Linked DNA regions of Homo sapiens: region 1 is linked to region 2. A link means that fine-mapping ties the variant in region 2 to the expression of a gene that starts in the linked region. Tissue or cell type: whole blood. Region 2 holds a variant in brackets; the other region holds the start of a gene. All regions are shown on one strand. Distances are from middle to middle.

Region 1 (8,101 bases), 160 kb after region 2:
GTAGGTGGGATTACAGGCGCCCCGCCACCATGCCCAGCTTATTTTTTGTATTTTTAGTATATAGACAGGGTTTCACTATGTTAGCCAGGCTGGTCTTGAATTCCTGACCTCATAATCTGCCCGCCTAGGCCTCTCAAAGTGCTGGGATTACAGGCGTGAGCCACCGCGCCCGGCCTATTTATTTATTTATTTTAGATGGAGTCTTGCTCTGTCTCCTGTGCTGGAGTGCAATGGCACGATCTCAGCTCACTGCAACCTCCACCTCCCGGGTTCAAGCAATTATCTGCCTCAGCCTCCCGAGTAGCTGGGATTACAGGCGACTGCCACCATGCTCAGCAATTTTTTTTGTATTTTTTAGTAGAGATGAGGCTTCACCATCTTGGCCGGGCTGGTCTTGAACTCCTGACCTTATGATCCACCTGCCTTGGCCTCCGAAAGTGCTGGGATTACAGGTGTGAGCCACTGCGCCCAGCCTCTGGGATCAGAGTTTTTAAAGATAATTTGGCCGGGTGTGGTGGCTCATGCCTGTAATCCCAGCACTTTGGGAGGCCGAGGCGGGCAGATCACGAGGTCAGGAGATCGAGACCATCCTGGCCAACATAGTGAAACCCCATCTCTACTAAAAATACAAAAATTAGCCGGGCATGGTGTCGCATGCCTGTAATCCCAGCTACTTGGGAGGCAGAGGCAGGAGAATCCCTTGAACCGGGGAGTTGGAGGTTGCAGTGACCCGAGATTGTGCCACAGCACTCTAGCCTGGTGACAGAGCAAGACTCCGTCTCAAAAAGAAAAAAAGAGAGAAAAAAAAAGATAATTTGGCTGGTAGGGGCTAGGCAAGTAGGGAGTGCTGATTGGTCGGGTTGGAGATGGAATCATAGGGGGTCGAAGTGAGTTTTTCTTGCTGTCTTCTGTTCCTGAGTGGGATGGCAGAACTGTCTGAGCTACATTACTGTTGGAGGTGGTGTCAGCAGATCCATCAAGTGCAAGGTCTGCAAAATATCTCAAGCACTGATCTTAGGTTTTACAATAGTGATGTTATTCTCAGGAGCAATCTGGGGAGGTTCAGACTCACAGCTGAAGGCTGCATGGTCCCTAAACCATAGTTTCTAATCTTGTAGCTAATTTATTAGTCCAGAAAGGCAGACTGGTCCCCAGGCAAGAAGGGATTTTTTTTTTTTTTTTTTTTTGGAAAAGGGCTATAATCAATTTTGTTTCAGAGTTAAACTATAAATTCCTTCCCAAGGTTAGTTCAGCCTACACCCAGGAATGAACAAGGACCACTTAAAGGTCAGAAGCAAGATGGAGTAGGTTAGGTCTAATCTCTCCCACTGTCATAATTTCCTCAGTTATAATTTTTGCAAAGGTGGTTTCAAGATCAAGATGAGAAAAATGGGTCTTGGAGAGGTGAAATAACTGGTTTAAAAGCAAAGAGCTGCATTCTCTATACCTCCTCTCTTGTAGAATAAATGAATGATGTCTCTCTTGTAGGGAATTAGACAGATAGATGGGCAGCCACCACATTGGTTGTAATTAAGTTTCATTCTTTCTTCACCAGCCCAGCATTGTACTTGGCTGCAGCAGACCCAGAGCAGGCAGGACTGCCTTGTGGGGTGTGGACTGTTCTCCTCTGAGGCTGCAGAGAGCAGACAGCAAAGATCTGTCTGCTGCCCTTGAGGGGTGGCCATAGAGGCTTGGGGACAGGCAATTTCTAAGGGGATACAAAATGGATCCTTCCCCATCCTCCCACTTGTGTGCAGATATTTCCCGAAGTAAAGCTGAGCTAAACCCTAAAGGATAGTCAGGATTTAGATGGGAGAGGAAGGTGAAAGAAACAGATGACCAGGCGCAGTGGTGTGTACCTGTAGGCCCAGTACTTTGGGAGGCGGAAGTGGCAGGATCAATTGAAGCCAGGAGTTCAACACCAGCTTGGGCAACAAAGTAACACCCTGTTTCTAAATAAACAAACAAAATAAATGGATGCAGGGAAACAGTAAAATAGTTACTAAATGTGTATGATGCATGTGGGCTGGGCACAGTGGCTCACGCCTGTAATCCCAGCACTTTGGGAGGCCGAGGCGAGCAGATCATTTGAAATCAGGAGTTCAAGACCAGCCTGGCCAAGATGGTGAAACCCAGTCTCTATTAAAATTACAAAAAAAAAAAAAAAAAAATTAACTGGGTGTGGTGGTGAGTGCCTGTAATCCCAGCTACTTGGGAGGCTAAAGCAGCAGAATCTCTTGGACCTGGAAGGCGGAGATTGCACTGAGCTGAGATCATGCCACTGTACTCCACCCTGGGTGACAGAGTGAGACTTTGTCTGGAAAAAAAAAAAACCCCAAACCCACAAAAAATAAATTAATAAATGTGTATCATGTGCTTTATACTATGTTAGTGACAGAAACACAACAGTGAGCAAAACAGACCTCAGCCCTACCCTCATGGAGCTTTCAGTCTAGCGGAGGATACAGGCATAAAGAACCACCTATACTAGTATTAATTACAATCTGCAATGGGTATTGTGAAGGAAAAGTACAGGGCAATAGGAGAGCTTATGTTGGGTATGAGGTGATGATGTAACCAAGAGAGTGAAGGGAAGCTACTCCTGAAGAAAGGCATCTGAACTTGCATTTAAAGGGTAAGGAGAGGTTAACCAGAGGATGATAGTGGGGCATGGGTTAAGTGCATACCAGGTAGAAGGAACACATGTGTAAAGGCCCTGAGACAGGAGGGCACAAGGAAGGTTTGAGCAACTGAAAAGAACTTGCATGGCTGGAACAGTGGGTGGGGGTTGGGGGCTAGAAGGGGTCAGAAGGGGAGAAACGTAGGGGCAGATCCTTTAGGACCTTGAAGACAAACTAAGAATTTGGGCCTTTATGATTTTTTTTTTTTTTTTTTGAGACAGAGTTTCACTCTTTTTGCCCAGGCTGGAGTGCAATGTTGCAATCTTAGCTCACTGCAACCTCCGCCTCCCAGGTTCAAACGATTCTCCTGCCTCAGCCTCCCAAGTAGCTGGGATTACAGGTGTGCACCACCACACCCAGCTAATTTTGTATTTTTAGTAGAGATGAGGTTTCACCATATTGGCCAGGCTGGTCTCGAACTCTTGACCTCAGGTGATCTGCCTGCCTTGGCTTCCCAAAGTGCTGCGACTACAGGCATGAGCCACCTTGCCTGGCCTGATTTTTTTTTTTTTTTTTTTAACTGAGACAGGGTCTCACTCTGTCACTCAGCTGGAGTGTAGTGGTGCAAAGATGGCTCACTGCAGCTTTGACCTCCTGAGCTCAAACAGTCCTCCTGCCTCAGCCTCCCAAGTAGCTGGGAGTACAGGCACAGGCCACCATGCCTAGCTAATTACGTGTGTGTGTGAGATATGTATATGTATATATATATATATATATATATATATATATATTTTTTTTTTTTTTTTTTTTTTTTTGTAGAGCCAGGGTCCTGGTATGTTGCCTAGGCTGGTCTCGAACTCCTGGCTTCAAGTGATCCTCCTACCTCTGCCTCCCAAAGTACTGGGATTACAGGCATAAGCCACGCACCCAGCCCTTTATGGAAATTAATTGAAAAATTTTAACAAAGTTCTGTGATAATTTTGCCCCCTTTAAACATATCTTTGATTACAACATGAAGAACAATAGACCAATTAACAGCACTGTATTAGTTCAGGGTAAAAATGACAGTGGCTGGGATTCGGTGACAGCAGAGATGAATAATACCAGACAGATCCAAATAAATAAGGTGGATTTGGCCAGACAGTGGTTCATGAGTATAATCCTAGCATTTTAGGAAGCCAAGGCGGGAGGATCACTTCAGCCCAGGTGTTTGAGACGAGCCTGGGCAATATAGTGAGATCCCCATCTCTACAAAAAATCCATAAATTAGCTGGGTATGGTGGTGACCAGCTGTAGTCCCAGCTACTCAGGAGGCTGAGGTGGGAGGATTGCTTGAGCCCAGGAGCTCGAGGCTGCAGTGAGCCATGATTGCACCACTGCACTCCAGCCTGGGCGACAGTGAGACCCTGTGGGGGGCGGGGGCGGGGGAAAGCGGAGCTGTGGAGAGTGAAGCAGCCACCTCCCCCATGATTGAGGCTGTGTTGCTGAATTCCGTGAGTCACTTCATAAATGTTTGATGTCCAGGTTCAAGTCCCAACTCAGGTCCCAAAGCTGATGGGCCCAGGAACCCTCGTCCCTAAAACGATGAAACGACATCAGAGGGCGAGCAGCCCTAGAAGAAGCAGGCTCAGCTCGGGTGGAGGACTGCTGGATGGTCCTGGCACTTCTCTTTCCCCGAGCACGTTCTGCAGAAGAAGCGCTTTCCTAGTTCTCCCAAGGCCTCTGGCCTCACCTGTCACCCCTGTCCTTTGCCCAGGGATCAGTTTGGACTTCTTCCCAAACTTGGTCTACAGAGAAGTGAAGGGGCTGTTTCCTGTCCCACTTTTGAGAGTTTGCTTTAGAAACATAAAATTGGAAGGTGTCAGATTGATAGGCAGTTGGGAAGGACTCCGGCCACGCCTCTGGCTCCGTAGACGCTCCGCGCAGCCAAGACCCCTGAATCCCCAGCAGAGCGAAGATGTGGACGGAAGCCGAATGCCCACCCACCGCACTATTGTGGGCTGGGCGGGGGGGGGGGGGGGGGGGGCGGAGCGACCCCGGTGCCGTCATAGGGCCACGCCCTCGGGGGAGGGCATCGCGCCTGCGCCAGAACCGCTGCCTCGCTCCCGGAAGTGGAGGGTCTACACGAAGCGCCGCTGGGTCTGGGTGCCCGGAGGCAGCAGCGTTCGCGGAGTTCGCCCGCTGGCCCCCGATCACCATGTCGGCTTTCGACACCAACCCCTTCGCGGACCCAGTGGATGTAAACCCCTTCCAGGTAGAGCCCCTCTCCCGCCATCCAGCTCTCAGATTTCCCTAGGGCCCACGGCCGCCGCCCGGGCCTCTCGCTAGAGCCGGGAGACGTGGCGTAGGAGGGACGGGTCATCTGCCCAATGGGAGAGCGGGCTTTGAGGTCTGGCCTATCGTAACGCGTGAGGGGCGCGACTAGCAGCAGGTGGAACTGCAGAGGAGGCGGGGCGCTGAAGTGTTGGAGACAGTGGGGTCTTCTAGCACCCGGAGGCTGGGCTGTGCTAGGGAAGGGGACTGGAGCAGGTACGGTCGGACCCTTCCGGAAGTCTCCTAGCGTCAGGGAGAAGCGAAATGTGGCTATCGCATTCCCTCATTCTTGGATAGACACCTGTCTTGAGTCACTTTAGAAGAGGGGGTGACAGCAACATATGAGGAGGTGGTGAAGCCTCTGGTGGAGGGGAAAAATGTGGGAAAAGCCCAGGACACCTGCCACCGCTCCACCACCAGCCAAACTAGTGTATAAAGTACAGGAGAGCCCCTGAGATTTGTCAGGGAAAGAAAGATGGGAGAGGGCGGGAAGGTAGCCCAAGTTGAAAAATGGCCTTGATAAGAATTCCACATTTTGGCCATGGGTCTAGTTTGGAGTGGGTTTTGACCAGATAGGAGAGCCCGGGTTAGGGAGAGAGGAGAGGTGCGGGGGACTGTGAAAAATTCTGGACCCACAGGGAACGTTTGTCTGATGGAACTGTGTGTGGTGGCAACATAGTTGAGATGCACTGACGTGTGAGCTGGCCTGACTTTTTTTTTTTTTTTTGAGACGGAGTCTCGCTTTGTCGCCCAGGCTGGAGTGCATTGGCACGATTTCCGCTCACTGCAACCTCTGCCTCCCGAGTTCAAGCAATTCTCCTGCTTCAGCCTCCTGAGTAGCTGGGACTACAGGCGTATGCCACCACACCCAGCTAATTTTCATACTTTTAGTAGAGACGGGGTTTCACCGTGTTGGCCAGGCTGGTCTCAAACTCCTGACCTCAGGTGATCCATCCGCCTCGGCCTTCCAAAGTGCTGGGATTACAGGTGTGAGCCACCACGCCTGGCCTGACCTTTTGAACAGCAATCAAGGAAGAAACAATCTTCCTGCTTTCTTTCTTTTCCTTTTTTTTTGTTTTGTTTTGTTTTGTTTTTTGAGACAATTCTTGCTCTGTCGCCCAGGCTGGAGTGCAGTAGCGCGATCTCGGCTCACTGCAGCCTCAGCCTCCTGGGTTCAAGTGATTCTCGTGCTTCAGCCTCCCGAGAAACTGGGATTACAGGTGTGCACCACCACACCCGGCTAATTTTTGTATTTTTAGTAGAGACGGGGTTTCACCTTATTGGCCAGACTGGTCTCAAACTCCTGGCCTGAAGTGATCCACCCACCTTAGCCTCCCAAAGTGCTGGGATTACAGGGGTGAGCCACCACACCTGGCCTCTTTTTTTTGAGACAGAGTTTTGCTCTTGTTGCCCAGGCTGGAGTGCAGTGGCGCGATCTCGGCTCACTGCAACCTCAGCCTCCTGGGTTCAAGCAATTCTCCTTCCTCAGCCTCCTGAGTAGCTAGGATTACAGGCATGCACCACCACGACCGGCTAATTTTGTATTTTTAGTAGAGACGGGGTTTCTCCACGTTGGTCAGGCTGGTCTCGAACTCCCGACCTCAGGTGATCCACCTGCCTCGGCCTCCCAAAGTGCTGGGATTACAGGCATGAACCACTGCGCCCAGCCCTCTTTCTTCCTTTTTTAAGGCAGGGTCTCACTCTGTCGCCCAGGCTGTAGCACAGTGGAGGTCATGGCAGCCTTGACCTCCAGGATTCAAATGATTATTTGAATCCCACCTCAGTCTCCTGAGTAGCTGGGACTACAAGAATGTGCCACTGGGCCTGACTCCTTTTAAAAAAAATTTTTGTAGAGAAGGGGTCTCGCTGTGATGCCCAAGCTGGTCTCGAAATCCTGGTCTCAAGCAATCCTCTGGCCCCAGCCTCTCAAAGTGCTATGATTACAGGCATGAGCCACAGGACAGTCTTCCTACTTAAAGCCCACACCTTTCTGCCTTTCAGCTGAGAGCACAGGGATGATCTTTTTCCACCATGAGGGGCTGAACTGTTACCTCCAGAGCTCCTATGCCTCTTGTTTCACGTCTGCTCAAAACCCGTTCTAGGGAAGCTTGTTTGTGCTGACTGGTGAATTATGAGCCCTGATATTCTGCTCTGTCAGGATGTCACCAGGCACATTAACTCACCCTGCTTGTCCTTTATTTTGGTCATTGGCAGCTTTTAAGTTTCCTGCAGGTGTCAGAGAAGTCCTTGAAGGAGTCCTTCCTGTCATTCACAGCATGAGTTTTCCCACTTTGAATCGCTTCAAGGGTCAGAGCAAAATCAAAGGAGACTTGAACTAAATAATTATACGCTGTCAGGAGAGTGAAAATGTTTTGCTTCTTTCTTGGTCTCAAGGTGTCTTAGCCAACAGGAGCCCTCAGGGCAAATTCTGATAGCTTGTTCCTTAGAACATCAGGGAATTCTGAACATTCCTCTCGTAGCTTAATGTTTCTTGACAGAGCGTTTGCAAGGACCTTGTCTCTTATGTAAGGCAAACAGTCATCTCTATTGAGTAAAGAAAGAAGATTTGCATTTTTTTTTTCTGCCAATGTCTTCTGGTAACAGACTTTAATTACAAAACTGCTGTATAATACTGGGGTTTGGGTTTTAGTAGGATCTTGTAGCCTTATGGTGTATGTTGTATGTGATGATTTTCCATTTTTTATGTGTGTTTTTTTGTCCTCTCAGAATCAGAAATAAAAAGTCTGCTGCTGTCTGACAGAGAGGAAGTCAGTTGTCTAAAAATGCAGAGAGCTTTGCTCCAGTGTTAGCAGAGGGCAAGATAGTTCTACCCTGTATTAATAGCTGCTTGAAAGTCTTAAACCTCATCTCTGGCTCCAAAAATGACTGTGCAAACTGTGGTAGAAGTAACTTCTGCATTCTAGCGAGACAGTCTGTCCATCAGGAAGCCCCAGGATATGGCATGACAGGAAGCAGCTGTGGTCCTGTCAACCAGCCACATCTGGTGGGGAGTCCTGGGTGGGAAGAAGAAAGCTGGCTGGCTGGCTGCGATTTGCTCCTCCTCATCCTGGGCTGGGCTTTTCCTCTTGGCACACAGTGGTGTGGGGAGAAACAGCTTTGGATGTGAGGCCTCTGAACCTTCTCCTGGTCAGAGCTGCCCACCTTTT
Region 2 (8,101 bases):
TTAACTGTTTTCCAGCTCCTTCAACAGAAGGCTTCAGGTAGCCAGAGACCACATCTCTGCTAATACACTGCCTGCTTCTGCTCATGGGACCACCATCTTTCATTTCTAAGAGCTTCCCAACCATCCTGAACCATTTGCTACTTAAGAATGTCCCAGGTTCATCGCCTCTATTCTGAAATTTGGAAAGCTACTTCCTGAAGGTCTAGGTCCTCCACTCTCCCCAGCTCCCAAAACCATCTTCCAGTTTGCAAAGCGGAGAACCTTGCCTAGTGCTGGCCTTCAGAATCATCCCCAAATTGGGCGCCAGGCATGGTGGCTCATGCCTGTCATCCCAGCACTTTGGGAGGCAGAGACGGGCGGATTGCTTGAGCTCAGAAGTTTGGGATGAGCCTGGGCAACAGGGCAAAACTCCTTCTCTACAAAAAAAAAATAATCAATCAATCATCCATCAATAAAAAAATAAAAAGAATCATCCCCAAATTGGTAATGCCCTTGATTCAGGGGTTCTCGCCTCCCTCTCAACTCTACCCTTTCTTCCTTCCCTACACCGTCACTCAAGGTCTCAGAGCCTTTAGGCCCCCACTGTCCCCTGGGGAGCTCCACCCGGGGTCCTGTTAAGCCTCTCACCCTGCTTGAGATCTTCCCTCTAAGCTCTTTGCCTAACCTCTCAGAGGCTCCACTCTCTAGCCACCCTCCCAGGTTACAGTCACATTGTTAGGGAGCCTCCTGGGGTCAAGGTCTTCACTAAGGAGTAATGCGAAGAGTATGTGATGGGCGGGTCTTTCCTGATGCCCCACCTCTGACCCACTGAAGCAGCTGACTCTCCTTGGAGGTGACCCTGACTGACCCCAGTGCTGTCTAGCAGGCCCAGACTAGTTTTTCTGGTTTTAGAGGGATGTCACTTGATCTGATTCATCAGCCCTATGGGCTTTGTTCTTTTATTTTCATTCACTCCACCAAAAGGTCCTGGGAGCCAAGGGCTGGGCCCTGTACACATTAAAATAAATAAATAAATAAATAAAACCATGTGTTATCTTCTATGATACTAAATAATTCTGACCGTTTACTCATTTACCTTGACCTTTTCCCAGCAAATGCCAAGGAGCCCTGGCAGGGCAGAAACTCCCTGAGGGCAGGAGCCTTCCTTGGCTTTCTCTTACACCTTTGTGGGTCCTGGTAGAAGCAGCGCTGGGCATTAAAAAAGAATCCCCCATATGCTACAGAATTCCTGAAAGGCAGCTCCCGGCTTAGTCCCCTGCTGACACCACTTAGAAAAAAGTTTTTTTCCTTTTTTTTTTTTTTTTTTTTGAGACACAGTCTTGCTCTGTGCAGGCTGGAGTGCAATGACACTATCTCGGCTCACTGCAACCTCTGCCTCCTGGGTTCCAGAGATTCTCCTGCCTCAGCCTCCAGAGTAGCTGGGATTACAGTTGTGCGCCACCACGCCCAGCTAATTTTTGTATTTCTAGTAGAAAGAGTGTTTCACCATGTTGGCCAGGCTGGTTTCAAAGTCCTGGCCTCAGGTGATCTGCCCACCTCAGCCTCCCAAAGTGCTGGGATTACAGGTGTGAACCACCACGCTCAGCCTACCTGAGAAAAGTTTTTACAGCTAATAGTTTTAAGCTAAATCTCTTTGTGTATGTGACTGAGGCTTGGACAGACCCTATTACATAAGCTGCCTGCATTTTATCTAGCATGTATAGAGATTCCTTCCCGAAACCAGTTGGCAAGTCTAGTTTCCTTTTCTTTGCTGAAGAGACATCAGGAATCCTGATTTGGGTCTGGTCAGGAGAAATGGAATGAGGATTTAGAGTGATACCTCCCGTTTCTACTTCAGGCCCCTAGTGTGGCCAGGCTACGTCTGGGGCAGATTATCAAAGGAACTCGTGGAGAGGCACTTCGCAGCCACAGGATGAGACAAATCCCATGGCCTGAGTCTCCACCGCCAAGCCCATTCCTGGCCTCTACCCACTAGAACCAAGAGCCAGTAGCACCACCATCCCTAAGTTAGGACAACCAAAAATGTCTCTGGACATTATCCAATGTCCCCTGGGAGGGAAAATCACCCCCGTTGAGAACCACAACTCTACAGCATTATCCGTGAAGAGCATTTCCATCTCTGCAATGATGGGAACGGCCCTACCTGTGCCGTAGGGTGTGGCAGCACTGGCCACATGTGGCCACTGAGCATCTGAGGTGTGACTGCTGTGACTGAAGAACTGAATTTTTTATTAAATTCTAATTAATTTAAATTTAAATTTGAATGTGGCAAGCGGCTGCCACATTCAAATTTACATTTATCGGATAGCACAGCTCTGGAATATACAAGAAAATTTAAATATATCAGATAGCACAGCTCTGGCATATACAAGAAAAGGAGAAGAGCCCAACTGGAACTAGCAGCTGAGTGGCTGGAGAGCAGGCGTTTCTAGTAGGGCGTGATGATGCCTCCACTGGAGACCAAGGAGGATTCTAAAGAGGAAGTGGTAGCCCCGCACTTAATCTGTGACAAGACAAGGAACCCAGGGCTTTGGTGGCCCAGTCCTCTGGGCCAGGACGCACAGCAGAGGACTCTGACATTGGGTCTACCAGTGTTGACGATGGCATGCTCCAGATCTGTGCCCAGGTCCTAGCGGCCAGCTAAGAAGCTGACACTAACCTGAGCAGGGGAGTTGGTGGGTACATTCTAGGACAAAGGATTCTTGGGGCCCAGTGCGGTTGGCACATGAGGCGCGGGAGCTGTGAAGGAGGTGGCCTCCTTAACAAAACCCCCAAGGGAGTTCCGGTTGGCTCAGTGGGTTCCATGGCTCATGATGATGCCTCTACTCGGCAAACATTTACTAAGCCTCTTATATGGTGGGGGCAGGGCTGATAAGATCCAAGCTCTGGCCTCTCCTAGGGCTCAGTCTAACAGATAGGTGGGGTACAGGTAACCCCTAACTGCAAGGCAGACCAAGATAGGAATCCACAAATTCCACCATCCTCAAGCATTGGTGAGCTTGAGCAGAGAATGAGCTCCAGGTCTGAGCTCTTCAATTCACTCACTGATAGGACCCAGGAAACCTGGCCTCAAGCCCCCAGTTCTGCTAACTCACTCACTCCCTGGAAGGCCGTGGGCGAGACCCTCTTCCTCTGTGCCTGGTTTCCCCTTATGACCCATGCATGGGCCATTTAGACCACATGGTAGGGCTCCATCTAGCTCACCGTACCACCCCAGCCCTTCTGTGACCCTGACCTTTCCCACCTGGCTCTGCAGGAAACAGTCGTGCTCTCATCTGCCCCTGGGGGAGCTGGTGTTCTGGTTGTGTCAGCTCCTCATGCCAACCCTTCTGTGTGCTTCCCCAACTTCAGAAAATTCTCAAGAAGGAAACCAGGGAGGTGGTCTAGGGAGGCTCTGCACAGGAACGTTGTTCTGGGCAATCAGGGAAGGACCCTGGGGTGCGGGACCCTCTGCCCAGAGGCCGACAGAGCTCTGTCCCTAGAGGAGCAGGTGACAGGGCTGCAGGCCAGAGGAGGAAGGGGCCAGCCAAGCAGGCAGAGGCACAAATAAAGGTCTCAGAGTTTCCACATCAGGACACAGAGCGGGCAGGTGGCCCCCACCCAGAAAAAAAGAGAAATCCTCAAACCAGGCCTTATGTCTTCTGCTCTTTCCTCAGTGAGCACTT[T/A]AAAAAAAAAAAGCACAAACTTATCAAGAATGTTCCCCAATATTCCCACCAAAAGCCCCACTGACTTAAAACAAACAAACAAACAAAAAAACACACACACACAAATATACACATAGGTTACAAATTAAAACTGAACAGAATGATACAAAAATGAAAAATGCAAGTTTCCCTTCCTCCACTGGTCCCCCTTCACAAGGGTAACCACCTCCAGAGGAAAAAACTGTGTGCAGTAACTCAGTATAAGAACACACAGAAGGAATCAGGCTGCATACCAGGGGTCGGCAAACCTTCTCTATAAAGGGCCAGATGATATTTTAGGCTTTGTCGTAATGATTTAACTCTGTAGTAGCACGAATGCAGCCATAGGCAATACGTAAATGAATGGGTATGGCTGTGTTCCAATAAATTGTCTTGGACATGAAATCTGAATTTCATATCACTTTTTTTCCGAGTCATAAAATACTATTTTTCTTTTGACTTAATCATTTAAAAATGTAAAAATCAGGCCAGGCACAGTGGCACATGCTTGTAATCCCAGCACTTTGGGAGGTGGAGGCAGACAGATCACTTGAGCCCAGGAGTTTGAGACCAGCCTGGGCAACATAGCAAAATCCTGTATCTACAAAAAGAATGCAAAAAAATTAGCAGAGTGTGATGGCACGCCTGCAGTCCCAACTATTTGGGAGGCTGAGGTGGGAGGACTGCTTGAGCCTGGGAGGTCAAGGCTACAGTGAGCAGTGATCACACCACTGCACTCCAGCCTGAGCAACAGAACAAGACCCTGTCTCAAAAATAAATAATAAAAATTAAAATGTAAAAATCATTCTTAGCTGTAGGCTATACAAAAACAGGCAGAGCCGAATTTGGCCTTGGGGGGGGGGGTCCAGTTTGCTAGCTCCTACACCCTGCTTATTCCGCTTCCATCTTGATGATTGCTCCCTTCAGCACAGAGAGAGCCACCCCATTTTTCTGAATCATTGCCAAGTAATCCACTGAGAGATTGTCCCATAAATCATAAGGGCACCACAGCTCTCTACTGCTGGATATTTTGTTTGCTTCCAGTTTTGCTTTGAAATTATAAATAATGCTATAATGGACATCCTTTCACTTTGTAAATACACCCCACAGAGTTTAATCCTGTGGGTAAATCAAGGACTATGAAGATGTTTTAATTTCTCTCAATATTGTCAAGTGGTCCTCCAGAAAGTCAGAATTTACTCCACACTGCATATGAGCAGAGCCTTCTTTTCCTCACCCTCGACAGACCTGGATGTCCTGACAGACACCCTAGAAATGTATCCTTCTCTGAGCCCGAGGCCTGCTGACTCCTTGAGTTGGGGGTTTTCTCTATCTTTAGAAATCCCCTTTTGGCTCTGAATTCTGCTGACACCTGCCCTGGCAAAAGCTAGGGCGATGTCTGTCTTCTCCTCCCAAGTTTGAAGGGTGTGGATGAAGGAGTTCAGGAAATGCCACCCCATAATATGCGGCTTTGGTATGCTGATTATTTCAAACCTGAAGGCACTGGGGGAAAAACAAATGCAGGGAGGAACTTTCTCTGAACTTCTCTTATCTGCCTAAAGAGGGATTCCCCTTGTCCTGAGTCCCCCTCCCTGAGAAAGGAAGACTGACTTATTGACAATCTGCTGAGGCATCTTTTATTATCTGAGAGGTTTTTATCTGCCTAACAAGACCGTATAATTCCTCCCCTCACCCTCCCATAACTTGTGTCGCCACCACCCCCAGAAGCCCCAAGCCCCTATTTCCTTCTGTAGCTCAGGCTGCTATACAGGCTTCAGCCATCTCACCCTTCTGGGAATCTCATATTTTGTGGTACACCCATGTGCAGATATGTAACTAAATATGGTTTTCTCCTGTTGATCTTGTTTTTTGTTGTTATTGTTTTGAGATGGAGTCTTGCTCTGTTACCCAGACTGGAGTGCAGTGGCATGATCTCAGCTCACTGCAACCTCTGCCTTCTGGGTTCAAGCGATTCTCCTGCCTCCGCCTCCTGAGTAACTGGGATTATAGGCGCCCACCACAACCGGGTAATTTTTGTATTTTTAGTAGAGCTGGGGTTTTACCATGTTGGCTAGGGTGGTCTCGAACTGGCCTCAAGTGATCCGCCCGCCTCAGCCTCCCAAAGTGAGCCACCGCGCCCGGCCCTGTTAATTTTGTTTATAAGTCAGTTGAACTCATAGCCCAGCCAAGCAGCCTAGCAAGATGGAGGAAAGCCATTTTTGCTCCCCTGCATGGGCCAGGCTGCCAACCCCAGGGAAGAAACTGCCTGAGCTGACAACCCGGATTTTACTGCCACTCAATTACATGACAACTACGGAACTACAAAACCCCCGGCATCCTGAAGCTCCTGAGCCCCAGGACCTTCTCTCAGGCTGCCTTTGGGTCCTAGTCCTTTTTGCCCTCACATCTAGAATCTTCTAACACCAGTGCCAGAAGAGGCCCTGGAGATGGATCATTTGAGAACCTGCCCCTCCTTCACTGTGTGGATAAGAAAATTATGGCCAAAAAGAACGGACTTGCCCAGGGTCCCAGCGTCAGAAATGTGCTCAGCTGCCTCTCTTGTGACACGGTTGCCCACCTGCCCCAACATACTCAAGGTCATCTCTGCTAGTGACTACTCTCCCTGACTGCTGGTGTGTGTGGCTTGTGGCTAATCCATGTCTCTCCACCACCCCTCACAGTCTCCCTGATTTGGCTACCTTGACATTAGCGGCTTTCCCGGGATGTCTGGACATACTGGTCAATCAGGAACAGTGATGGGCCAGATCTGTAGAATCCCCCAGCTCCCTGCAGCCCACACCCCAGCTGTTCATGTGCTAGACAAAATCTGGATGTACCTAAGGAAGTTCCGGAAAGCCTTGAGCACCTGAACCCACGACTCAGCAGGTGAAGAGCTGAAAGTGACTGCTCCAAGGGACAATGATGCTCCTGCAGGAGATCCAGCAGGAGGCAATGTGGAGATCAGGGCCATCAGGGAGTGAAGGGGAGTGTGCAGGGATAGACGCCACCACTGGGGCCAACACAAGGCAATCCAGGGATTACCTTTGGATCCCAACACCTCACGAGGGCCCTAATAAGCAAGGCCAGGCTTGGAGAGCTGTCTCCCTGCAGATGAAAGGCATGGGCCCTCCACAAGAGCAGGTGAACTGTGGCTTCCATGGCTCTTCCCAGTGGGGTTGCCCCACACCATGTGGCTGGCCCAAAGGACATGAACAAGGGGAAAGGACAGGGTGATGGCCAGGAAACACACACAACCGAGTGCTTCAACATGCCAGGCTCTGTGCTGAGTCACTGGCACAGGACCATTTTCATCTGTGACCCCTCCCACCCCAGCCAACATCTCAGGGAGCCTGACAAGAGTCTGGGGGATGGGCAGCAGGAATCAGCCCTATTTTCAAATGGGAAAGGCAAGCTCCAAGAGGCTGAGTCGGGGAGCCCTCCCTCCCAGTTCAGTGCCCTCTGGCTGCCTCACTTTTGGCATCAACTCCAACCAGAGAGGGGAAGCCAAGTCCTGTTCCAGACATGGCCTGCCATCCCATGGGGCCCAGGCTAAAAGGCCCTGGGGTGGGCTGGAGCACCTCCCTGCTCCAGGCAACCCTTTCCTCACAACCCCCCTCCCACCAAACGCTGGCTGCGTGGGATGGGAGGAAGCGGTAGGGTTGCCATTTCCCTCCGCTCTGAGGCTGCCCATCTGTTTCCTGGGATAGGACTCCCCGCCCCTATCCACCCCTAGTCCGGAAACTCACTTGCCCTGGGGCTATGGGAAAAGGGAACTGCATGGCTCCCTCCCTCCCCAGGGGGTGGTGGCAGAGGCCTCCCACCCTCACGGCTCTAGCTGGGCAGCTCCTACCAATGCTTCTGGGTACACAGCGGGTGGCTGGGCCTAAGCAGCACTGCCCTAAAAGTGCAGCACCCAGTGTCAGAGTGCCACGAGACTCTCCTCCCTCCCCCACTCTGGCCTGGCTGTCATCCCTGGCTGGCAGCTTCATGGCTTATCCCAGCCCTGGGGGTGGGGTGATGGGGTGACTTTCTGGGTGGAAGTTGGTGGAAAGTAAAAAAGTGAAACACTTCCCAGCCCAGCCCCAGCTGATGTGACCACGTGGTCATCTGTGAGTAAGCACCGCCCCCTGCTGGACATGCCAGATACGGCCACTGCACCTTGGGTGCTCAGCTGATAACAAGAGGGAAAAGCCAGGCCTGGGGCCCAGCAACTTCACAAGACCCCACCAAAAACTAGGGGCCAGTAACACCAGCAGTGTCTAAGGCAACCTATAGTTCTATGTCAAATAAGTTTAAAAGAAGGGGCCAAAACCACAGGGGCTGGGCTGGGGCAGACAGGGAAGGCTTTGCACAGAATGTGAAAAGGCGAGAGAGGAGCAGAGAGGGCAGCCAGCCTAGCAGGGCCCAGCCACGCAAAG

What was found. PIP is the estimated chance that this variant, and not a neighbour inherited with it, causes the effect.
Region 1: it holds the start of SCAMP2, and the variant in region 2 is fine-mapped to the expression of SCAMP2 in whole blood (INTERVAL, PIP 0.96).

Annotation. Positions count from the first base shown.
Region 1 is chr15:74,869,973-74,878,073 of GRCh38, reverse strand. SCAMP2 (secretory carrier membrane protein 2) reads left to right here and starts at 4,709. Exons shown (of 9, transcript NM_005697.5): 1 at 4,709-4,875. The coding sequence starts at 4,819. RefSeq lists enhancers at 6,526-7,511, 8,027-8,101.
Region 2 is chr15:75,029,171-75,037,271 of GRCh38, reverse strand. All of the region lies in intron 2 of PPCDC (phosphopantothenoylcysteine decarboxylase), which reads right to left. Among named protein-coding and RNA genes, the nearest start is that of PPCDC, 9.6 kb to the right of the region's middle. RefSeq lists enhancers at 347-847, 5,348-5,848, 7,905-8,094 and a silencer at 3,200-3,393. The variant T/A (reference allele first, on the strand shown) is at 3,666.